Regions from separate parts of the Homo sapiens genome. Here region 1 is linked to region 2. The links come from fine-mapping of genetic effects on gene expression. A gene starts in region 2. The other region holds a variant in brackets. All regions are shown on one strand. Distances are between the middles of the regions.

The links. PIP is the estimated chance that this variant, and not a neighbour inherited with it, causes the effect.
Region 1: its variant is the best candidate, but not a certain one, in a credible set for the expression of AEBP2 in whole blood (INTERVAL, PIP 0.85).

What each region holds. Positions count from the first base shown.
Region 1 is chr12:19,545,795-19,551,175 of GRCh38, reverse strand. No RefSeq gene overlaps it. Among named protein-coding and RNA genes, the nearest start is that of AEBP2, 110 kb to the right of the region's middle. The variant AATAC/C (reference allele first, on the strand shown) is at 2,412.
Region 2 is chr12:19,437,207-19,442,587 of GRCh38, reverse strand. AEBP2 (AE binding protein 2) reads right to left here and starts at 3,096. Exons shown (of 8, transcript NM_153207.5): 1 at 2,218-3,096. The coding sequence starts at 2,888. RefSeq lists enhancers at 1,839-1,928, 1,959-2,008 and silencers at 2,659-2,758, 2,769-2,918, 2,979-3,228.

The DNA.
Region 1 (5,381 bases), 110 kb before region 2:
TGCAATATTCTGAAAGATGTTGGGTAAAGCTTCATAATTGTTAACCGTATTAAGGCATTGCCTGTAAACTGAGCACCTTTCAGAGTTATTTATACTAATAAGGATGGTCAGTTCTAGAATGTATGTTTTAACATTGAAGTTTTTAATACTTTCAAGACAAGGTTCTGGTACAGATATTTCCAATAAAAATATAAATAACATTTTTGTTTTTAAAAAAACTCCAGTAAGTAAACATCTCTGGAACATAGCTGTACGAGGTAAAGTACCTAGATGCTACTTTTAATTCAGTGGTACATGGTTTCCACATCACTGCTCACAACAGCAGGAATGTGTTAGCAACACAGCTGAAACCAAGTTTACACTAAAATACAAAACTATTATTACTCTTTTGAAATCTCAAGGGAACGTCTGACAGAACATGCCACTAACAAGATGTTTTCAAAAGTCACCTTGAGGCTGGGCCCGGTGGCTCACGTCTGTAATCTCAACACTTTGGGAGGCTGAGACAGGTGAATCACTTGAGGCCAGGAGTTTGAGACCAGCCTGGCCAACATGGTGAAACCCTGTCTCTACCAAAAATACAAAAATTAGCAGGGCATGGTGGCATGCCTCTGTAATCCCAGCTATTCGGGAGGCTGAGGTAGGAGAATCTCTTGAACCTGGGAGGCAGAGGTTGCAGTGAGCCGAGATCGCACCACTGCACTCCAGCCTAGGCAACAGAGTGAGACCCTGTCTCAAAAAAAAAGTCACCATTGAATAACTCAGGCTATTATGACATTTGGCCACACAGCGTTGGCCAAATATGACGATGATTTAAGCTTCCCCGGGAGTCCATTCATCAGCTCCTTTTAAAAAGTGAATACTCCCCAGTAAGGAAGGTGAGTGTTTTTAAAGATATTGTCAGTAATTTAACACTGGTATATAAATTCCCTAATGTTGTTCTTTCAGACTTCTGGATCAGTTTGACTGAAGGAATTGAAATTGAGATTGCAAAGTGACATGGTTAAATGTTTAAAAAAAAAAAAACTACCATTTTTAATTAATTATCTGTGTGGGCCAAAATTTTTCTCCATATGGTACCACCAAACAAAATACAAAAATAAGTTAGATAATAATGTTAGTATAACACTGCAGTCGTTATCTATAACTCTTACTGTATATTGATTTGTGTCCCCCAAAACAATATGTTGCATTCCTAACTTGAATCAGATGTAATCAAGTTAAGATGAGGTGATAGTCAATTAGGATAGGCCCTTAATCCAATATGAGTGGTGTCCTTATAAGAAAAGAAAAACAGGGCCGGGTGCGGTGGCTCACGTTTGTAATCCCAGCACTTTGGGAGGCCGAGGCGGGCGGATCACTTGAGGTCAGGAGTTCGAGACCAGCCTGGCCAACATGGCGAAACCCAGTCTCTACTAAAAATACAAAAATTAGCCGGGTATGGTGGTGCGCACCTGTAAACCCAGCTACTTGGGAGGCTGAGGCAGGAGAATTGCTTGAGTCCGGGAGGTGGAGGTTGCAGTGAGCGGAGATTGCACCACTGTACTCCAGTCTAGGGGACAGAGAAAACAGTGACACAGACAGGAGAATGCCGTGATAACTCAGACACAGAGAGAAGGCGGCCATATAAAGGCAGTGATTGGAGTTTTGCTGCCACATGCCACACCAAGCCTGGCACTACCAGATGCTGGAAGAGGCCAGGAAAGATTCCCCGCTAATACTCTAGAGGGCCGATGGCCTGGCAACACCTTGATTTTAGACTTATAGACTCCAGAACGGGTAAAGAACAAATTTCTGTTGCTTAAAGCCACCAGTTTGTGGTAGTTGGTTAGGGCAGTCCTGGGAAACGAATGCAACTCCCATTTCAATTGTTTATGAACACCAAAACAGCCTCTGTTCTCATTGCATAACTTTTGGATAAAGATTATAATTGTGAATTCATAAATTATCTAATAAAATATAGTTTTAATCTGTTACATACTAGAGTTTACGTAAAATTGCATTTGACAATAGGACATCACAATGGAAAAAATAAAATTAAAAAGGAGAACTTAAGTTCACTGCCTTAGAGCAAGATGGATGCAGCTGGAGGCCATATCCTAAGCCAATTCCCACAGAAACAGAAAACCAAATACCGCATGCTCTCACTTACAGGCGGGAGCTACATCTTTGGCATACATGGCCATAAAGATGAGAACTATAGTCACTGGGGACTCTAAAAGGAGGAAGGGAAGAAGGGAGGGAGCCAAGAGCTGAGAACCTTCTTATTGAGTACTACGTTCACTATCTCTGGGAAGGGATCAATAGAAGTTCAAATCAATCACAGCATCACACAATATGCCCATGTAACAGACCTGCAGGTACACCTTCTGAACCTAAAATAAAAATGGAAATTTCAAAATAGATAAATA[AATAC/C]ACTGCCTTAGTTCCACCACCTCATTTTACCTATCAGTTCGCTAAGGTGTAAAGGGAGAGAAAATGACTTGCCCAAGACAACAAAGAAAATTTGAAGCCAGGTGTGGTGGCTCACGTCTGTAATCCCAACACTTTGGGAGACCTAGGCAGGCAGATCGTTTGAGGTCAGGAGTTTGACATTAGCCTGGCCAACATGGTAAAACCCCATCTCTACTAAAAATACAAAAATTAGTATTTTTTGTACATGCCTGTACTCCCAGCTACTTGGGAGGCTGAGGCAGGAGAATCACTTGAACCCGGGAAGCAGAGGTTGCCGTGAGCAGAGATCATGCGACTGCACTCCAGCCTGGGTGACAGAGTGAGACTTGGAGAAAGAAAGAAAGAGAGAAAGAGAGAGAGAGAGAAAGAGAGAGAAAGAAAGAGAGAGAGAAAGGGAAGGAAGGAAGGAAGGAAGGAAGGAAAGAAAGAGAAGGAAAGAAAGGAAAGAAAGAAAAGGAATAAAGAAAGAAAAGAAAGAAAGAAAGAAAGAAGGAAAGAAAAAGAAAGAAAGAAGTAATTTATTTGCCGTTGAGCTTGAAGCTAGGACTTTTACATCTCCTGATTTCTAGTTCAGTATTTTTCTCTTGACCCTGTGACAAGGCTTCATTCTCCAGGTGGAAGCTTAGAATTATTTAAGAAGACATTCTTTCCAGCATAAAGATATTTAAATAGCATGGTTCCCACATAATGCTCTCAAGAGATTGCCTTTCATATTTAAATAAAAATATATTTCTTATCCTAGACAGGTCTAGAATTTATCACAAATCTAAAATTATGTATTATTTATTCAGATGAAGAGCTAAATTCTGCCTTTCATGATGGCAAAAGCAAACTTCAAACCAAACTGTTCTGTTGCTTCAGGAAAAAAGGAAGAAAGGAGGGAGGGAGGGAAAGAAAGAAGGGAGGGAGGGAGGGAGGGAGGAAGAAATGGAGGATTTATGTCTACTACTTTCTATATGAACAAAACAATACTTTTTTTTACCCTGGGATATTATACTTATTTAAAAGGAAGAAAAAAGTAGTAACAACCCCCATATTTCCTGTCATGCTTGTGCTGCTGAGGACAGTAAATTTTAGGGGTCATTTTGGTCCTTATTCAGGATGTTAGAAGCCCCAGTATAGTGTTTTGGACACTATTCAGAAGTCTCATCCAACTTAATTCTTGGCCCAGTTCTTGCCTTTGTTGAATTCTCTCCAGAGGTCAAGGTCAAAGGGACCTCACTGAGAAAGGACTCAAATTGGGAAAAGAATGCAGGGGCAGCAATTCCTTTTTTATTTCTCAAATCATCAGTGATATGGAAGGTCAAGTATGCAGGCCTGAGATGGAAACAGTGTGTTTCCCTTTCAAAGAGGAATGTTAACAGGATGAGAAAACAGACTTACAAATATGAAGAAGGGTGGAGTTTTACCCAGGCTCAGGGAGTTGAAGGCTGAAAGCTTTTGAGTTTTCATCAACATAAAAATATCCTAAGTAAAACATTATTTGCAGATGGGGCCACTACTTAAGAAAATTATGGAGCCAAATGTGATAGAGGAAAAAGTTCAGTCCTTGGTTATAGGGGGAAGAAACAACTCTGAAGGAGCTTGTTCCCCTCCTGGAACTGTATGCCCTTGCAGGTCTGAACTTGAACCTTACTCTGAGAGGCACTGGTTGGTTAACTCCACCCCAGAAGTACCGATGGCTCATTTTTGGGGGTGTGCTGTATCTCTAGTCAGATCTAGAACTTGCTATAAATGTAAAAACCATCACCACCCACTGGAAGCTATTCCAATTAGCCAGAGAAGCCGTCTTTGTGCACCATTTGGCTGCACAAAAGCTGAACGGCAAGGGCTGAATATGTGCTTCAGACAGGCCCTGCAAACTCCATATGAAAGGCTGAGGGTGGTTGCCATGAACACAATTTTAGATTATCTCCTTCTTCATTCAAGCTTTCAGAAAGAGCTTGCCACCAGATTTGTTAAAAGGATCCCAGCTCACGTGAGTGATTTCTTGGCACAAAAAGCCTTCCTTTCCTGTTATATTACAGCTTGTGTGCCGCATTTCTTCAACAGGCAAGTTCTCCTTCACAAACAGAAAGCAAGCTCGTGCAACCGATGGCAATCCTAAAGCTACATTTAGATAGCCCAATTCCTCAGCTTTAGCTTTAAAACGATTAGAATCATTTTCCCTCAAACATCTTTATTGCTTCACCTGAACTGGCCAATATTTTGTAAGGGTTTTTTCTATTCTTTCTTTTTTTTTCTTTTTGCTAATAAGGCTAATAAGAAAACAATCTTCAAAAAAAAAAAAAGAAAACAATCTTCTTGGGTTTTTGGTGCTAAAATCATAAATGGTCTTTCTTGCAGCATTGGAAAATATGACTATAACTGTGAAAACTATGTTTACTGCCCAGCAAACATGCATGTCCCAATACTCTGGAATAGAAATCAAAGGCATTTCATTGTGTGAATGGCCTGTAGCTGGAATCTCTCCAGGCAAACAAGAAGGTGAAGACACAGAGCAGGACCTCAGGCAGCATTCTGAGGACATGAAGCAAGCTGACTTCTGACTGGTAATAAATAGTATTATCTTGCCTCACTTCACGGAGAGGCATCCAAAGCAGTGTTCTCTATTTACCTCCTAGTGAATGATATGTGCCGAGAGCCAGAGAAATCAGCGACCAGCCAGAGAAATCAGTGACCAGCTCGTAGTCATGCAGATGAATATATCACGTATCACATTGCTCTCTATTCTGATTTTCACCTGAAATTACCACTGAGATTTTGAGGTCAAACAAAAGATTTTCTGCAAAACATTGAGAAATGCAAAGTTCTCTAGGGACTTTTCAGATGCAATGTTTTGAAATAATTTACTCCTCCACAAAAAGATTGTGAGGCAAATGGGTATTTTGTGCCATTTATTATACCTGGTGTGGACACAGAAGTGT
Region 2 (5,381 bases):
TCTTATTCTGAAATAAGATGTAAAAATTATATACTCAAGTAAATATCTCATTAATGTCAAATAAAAGCCACAACTCCACTTCCTAAATGTACTTAACCAATAATTCGTCTCCTGAAGTGATGTAGTAAATGGACACTAACTAAAAACAAAACTCTGACACATATCACTTGGTTTTTTTTTGAGACGGAGTCTCGCTCTGTCGCCCAGGCTGGAGTGCAGTGGCACCATCTCAGCTCACTGCAACCTCTGCCTCCCGGGTTCAAGCGATTCTCCTGCCTCAGCCTCCCGAGTAGCTGGGAACACAGGCGCGCGCCACCACTCTCGGGTAATTTTTGTATTTTTAATGTAGATAAGGTTTCACTATGTTGGCCAGGCTGATCTCAAACTCCCAACTCAGGTGATCCGCCCACCTCGGCCTCCCAAAGTCCTGGGGTTAACAGGCCTGAGCCACCGCGCCCGGCCTCAACTTATTTAAGGCGAATTATTTTAACTCTTCAGTGGAAATAATAGGGGACTTGAGAACCTTTGCTCATATCCAGCCCACCATTTCCATGCTGTATTTACTGTCCTGAGTAAGATACTCAACTTGCTTCTTCATCTGTTAAACAGAAGTCAAAATAATACCTATCTTGCACCATAGTTGTGGGAATGAAATGGAAGACATCTAATTTGTACAGTGGTAGGCAAGCATAATACGTGTATACTGAGTAAATGAAAAACGCTGATTTTATAAACTAATGTCAACTTTCAGATATGTAATGGTATCAGAGGAGCATAAAATGGTAAAAATAGCACATGCTTCATTGTGCAGTTTACATCAATTTTTAATTTTCTTGAAGACATTCTCCTTCCTACCCATGCCTACACAGTTCAACACAATTTTTCTAAGGTTTATACAGTCTACTTTACCCGAAGATATTTTCTTAACTAGACGTTAATGTCAAACAGAATCTAATGCCAGATTTTCAAAATATCCAGGACTCTGTATTACTTGTAGCATTAAATACTAAGGTGTTCGTTTTTAATCAATTAATCAGAATTCCTAGAACTTTAGAATATTAAACTCTTAAATGAAAATCACTATCGACCACTAAAATTTCCATTGCTATACTTTTCTGGAGAGCATGTTTAAAAAAAATGTGATTGTCAAAACATAGATGGTCAAAATAAACGCTAATACACTTTAGAAGTGGCATAATATGCATGTGATTCTCGTTTTTTTAAAAGTACATTAAAAACCAACTAACCCAAACAGATCAAAAGTAATGATAAGACAATTGAAACATACACTATCACACTTTTTAAATGTTCTGAAAAAATGCGCATTTTTGTCACTCTCCAGTTACTTCTAACAAGCTTTAGTAAGAAAAATAATACTCATTCCTTCCGAGACCTCTCCAATGCATGACTTTAAATATTATCATTTAAAATCATGACTCTCATGTTGAAACATTACTATAAAGCCGCAAACTACGTTGTACCTTCAAGACTGTATTTTGTTACGATTCCAACTCTCTGATTCCGCAAAGTTATCTTAAAAGGCCATCAATTCACTATTCTTTTCCACAACCATTTATACGTGTTTAAAACTTTTTCCCAGATATGCTCCCAAAACAAATAGAAAAGATTGTTAAAATCACGTTGGAGACCACATGACTGACTACAAATGAGGGATTTGGGAGGCAATGATTTAATATAAAAGAACAGTCCTTTTTTTGTTTAAGTAGAGAAAAGTGATAGCTGGGGTCTCTCCCATGGACAAGGAAGTTCTGTTAAATCCAGGCGAGACCAGCCATATTGGAAACACTTGTCAATTGTAGTTCTGACAAGTGTTCCCGAACACGGTTGGAAGAAGCTAACCTTGAGTACCGACGTGTGTACATCAAGGCCCTCTTCTGCTCCGCCAGAGGATCTGGGCCCGTTTGGGGACTGTTTCCGAGTTAGAGCCGTCCTGAGGTCCGTGAGGAGCGAAGCGCCGAGGGGAAAGAGGGCGGGGAAAGGAGAGTTGGGGGGGAACGGTTTGAGAGTTGGAAGCCGCGATGCGCTGCGAGAGGGGCGCGGCGGCGACGGCGAGAGATTTCCGAGTTGAGAGTCTGGGGGAGGGGCCGAGGATTCGGGGAGCAGGGGGATCGCGGCAAAACGTCGCCTTGGTCCCCCTCTGAGGGGCCCGGGAGTTCAAGAGGAGGAAGGGAAGGGGAAACGCTTCAGAGCACTGACCTGTCCTCCGAGTCCATGCGGCTCAGGGGTTCCCCATCCGACGACATCTCCAAGCTGCCCCGCCGGCCCCCGGAGGTCGCGCTGCTTCCGCCTCCCCCAGTCCCGTAGCCCTCGTCGCCGCCGCTGGAGACTACGCTGCTGCTACTGCTGCCGCCCCCGCCGCCGCCCTGGCTGCCCCGCGGTCCCTTGGGCTCCTCCAGGCCCTCCTTGCCGTCCCCATCCCCGCTGCTGCTGCTGGCGGCGCCGGGGCTCAACGAGCGGGTCTCGTCGCTGCTGCTCCCGCCGCTGCTGCCCACCAGGCTCTCGGCGCTACTCTCCTCCTCACCCCCGCCGCTGCTGCTGCTCTCATCTTCCTCCTCCTCGTCGTCCTCCTCCTCGTCTTCGTCCTCCCCGGCCTGGCTGGCGCTCTCGGGGCTCGGCTCCGACATCGTCTCTGCCTCGCCGCCCCCCACTCCTCCGCCGCCGCCTCCGCCGCCCCCACCGCTGCCGCCGTTCAGCAGCAGCGCCGCCACCGCCTCGGCCTCCGCCTCCTCTTCCTCCTCCTCCTCTTCCTCCTCCTCCTCGGGGGGCTCAGCCCGGCCCCGCGCCGCCGAACCCGGGCTGCCGGGGGGCAGAGGGCTCAGGCGGGAGAGCTCCTCCAGGTCGGCCATGTCGGTGATAGCGGCGGCCATGGCGGCGCCTGCTCCTCCTCCTCCTCCTCCTCCCCACCGCCGCCTCCCTCTCTCGACTCTCTCTCCCTCGCCCCCCTCCCAAACGCCCAAAACTCCGCCGACGCCGCTGCAGAGCAGGAGGAGGGCCCGCGAGCTGCGTCAGCCTGCACACGCGCTACGGAGCCCGCGCGGGGACAGGCGCGCGACTACGCGCACTCACACGGAGACTGCTGCGCGCCTGCGCGGCGGCACGAGGCAGCACCTCCCCCGGCTGCGGGTTCTGCGCCCCCGCCCCCGCCCGGCGCCCGCCCCGCTGCCCAGTGCCCGCCCCCGCCCCCGCCCCGGCGCCTGCAAGTGCTCAGCGTTTCCTCGGGGCCTTCCCACGCCCTGCCGGGCTTCGAAGCCCAGGGACACGCGGACTGAAAACTCCAACGCTGGCCGGGGATTTTAGCAGCCTTCCGAGTTCTCACGATAAACTCATTCATTCCGGGGGTGTTTGAGGAGTGTCCCCTCTGTACAGGAGCTGAGCCAGGAATAGAACGAGCCTACAGTCTACGAAGAGAGCGGTTTAAAATGGGCAAAAATTAAAACACTACGGTGTAAGGTACTAAATTTTTATGCGCAACACAGGGCGACAGGTTTTAATACACCCTATGTTTGAATACCCCTGGAGATGTTGACATCCTGAACCCAGAGCAAACATCTTGGTTCAGGGTCCTCAAACTTTTTACTTCATGAGCCTTCTAAAACAATTTCGTAAAGCTGTGTATGTTCTTATACAGTTTAGAATGACAGCTACATTTTTCCGGCTTATAAATATTTCATCTGTCGCATTGTTTAAATACTGTATAGCCAATGGATTCTAAATACCATAGGGATTTAACACCCACTAATATCCATTTTTTTAAAATACAGTTTGGAAAATACAATTTCCAAATATTGTTTTCTGGAACTCATATTGACGTTGCATATCTCCTCTAGAATTTTATCCTAGTAATATATTTTATATTTGAACTATTTTGATCGTCTTACTTGTAATAAAAATGTGAACATAAATTGAAGTATCTGGGTTGTTTTTTATATTTTCTGTGATCATAAAGCTCTTATTTCAACCGATCAAAACAAATCTATTTCAAATGTTTGTAAGTACTAAACACAAAAGCAAAATTTTATTGGCAATGCATCTTGCAGAAATGAACTTGGGTGGACTTTTTTCTAATATACATTATGACCTTCAGTGGATGGATTTTTTTGAGAAATAGTTCAGCATCAGTTCTATTCCAAGTTTTCAATTCCATGGATATAAGTGTTGAGAAAACTTGTTCGCATAAAAAAAGCAGATGAGAATGAATGGAGTTTTGTTATAGTAATGCCACACAATTCTTTGAATGCCTTTCGCATTATATGCCCAAAAATCGCATAAAGATCTAACAAAGAAAAAATACTTTTAATGATCTGTCAGCTGACAACTCTGATTAGGTTCTCTTTCAACTTGTTGAAAGCAAGCAACTGAAAACCACCTGACTTGTGAAAGGATGTGTTACCCCATTCTTATTCACCAGTCAATTGTGCCTTTCTTTGGTGTCCTGGAGGTTTTTGCATAACCGGGTATTGCACCTTACTAAGATTTAGCATGAGGAAGAATTATGCCTTTCTTTTGTAAAGTAGGGAAGAGGTCATTGGAAGAAAGGAGACTGGAAAAGAGCCCACATTACACCCTGACCCAAGGACACATTTTCAGGCCAATTTTAGGGATGCTTCTACTCAAGGAAAATGAGGATAGAACTGACTGCCTGAAAACAGAGCCTCCATGCTCATTTCCCATTTGGGAAAGTCGTCATATACCGTGAGTACCCAGTATTACATCCTCTGCCTTAGGCCTTTGGACAACTGTTATATAAAATGTTGCCTCTAAGGGAATGCAAAAATAATAACATGGGACATCATTTACAGATACCTTCAGAGGCACATACAATGTAAGGTATTAACTTCCAACATTTTAAACCTCAAAGGCAATCTTAGATAAGGAATGTATTAAAGTGAAATACACTGTAAACTGTAAATTAAAAACTATCAGAAGGCCGGCAGGGTGGCTTATACCTGTAATCCCAGCACTTTGGGAGGCCAAAGTAGGAGGCTCACTTGAGCCCAGGAGTTTGAGACCAGCCTGGGTAAAATAGCGAGACCCTGTCTCTACGGCACACCTGTAGTCCCAGCTACTCAGGAGGCTGAAGTGGGAGGTTCACTTGAGCCCTGGAGGTTGAGGCTGCAGTGAGCCATGATCATGCCACTGCACTCCATACCTTTCCTCACCCATCATAAGGGTCATGGCCAACACTTCTACAACAAAAGACAGGTTAACAAGAGAAAAGTGTAACAAATTAATTTAATGGAAGTCTTATGTGACACAGGAGCCTTCAGAAGTAAAGACCCAGAGAAAGCTGTCCATTTGTATGCCTAGATTCAACAGAGTGGACATCCATGTAGAAATGTGATTGTACAAAAAGAGAATGA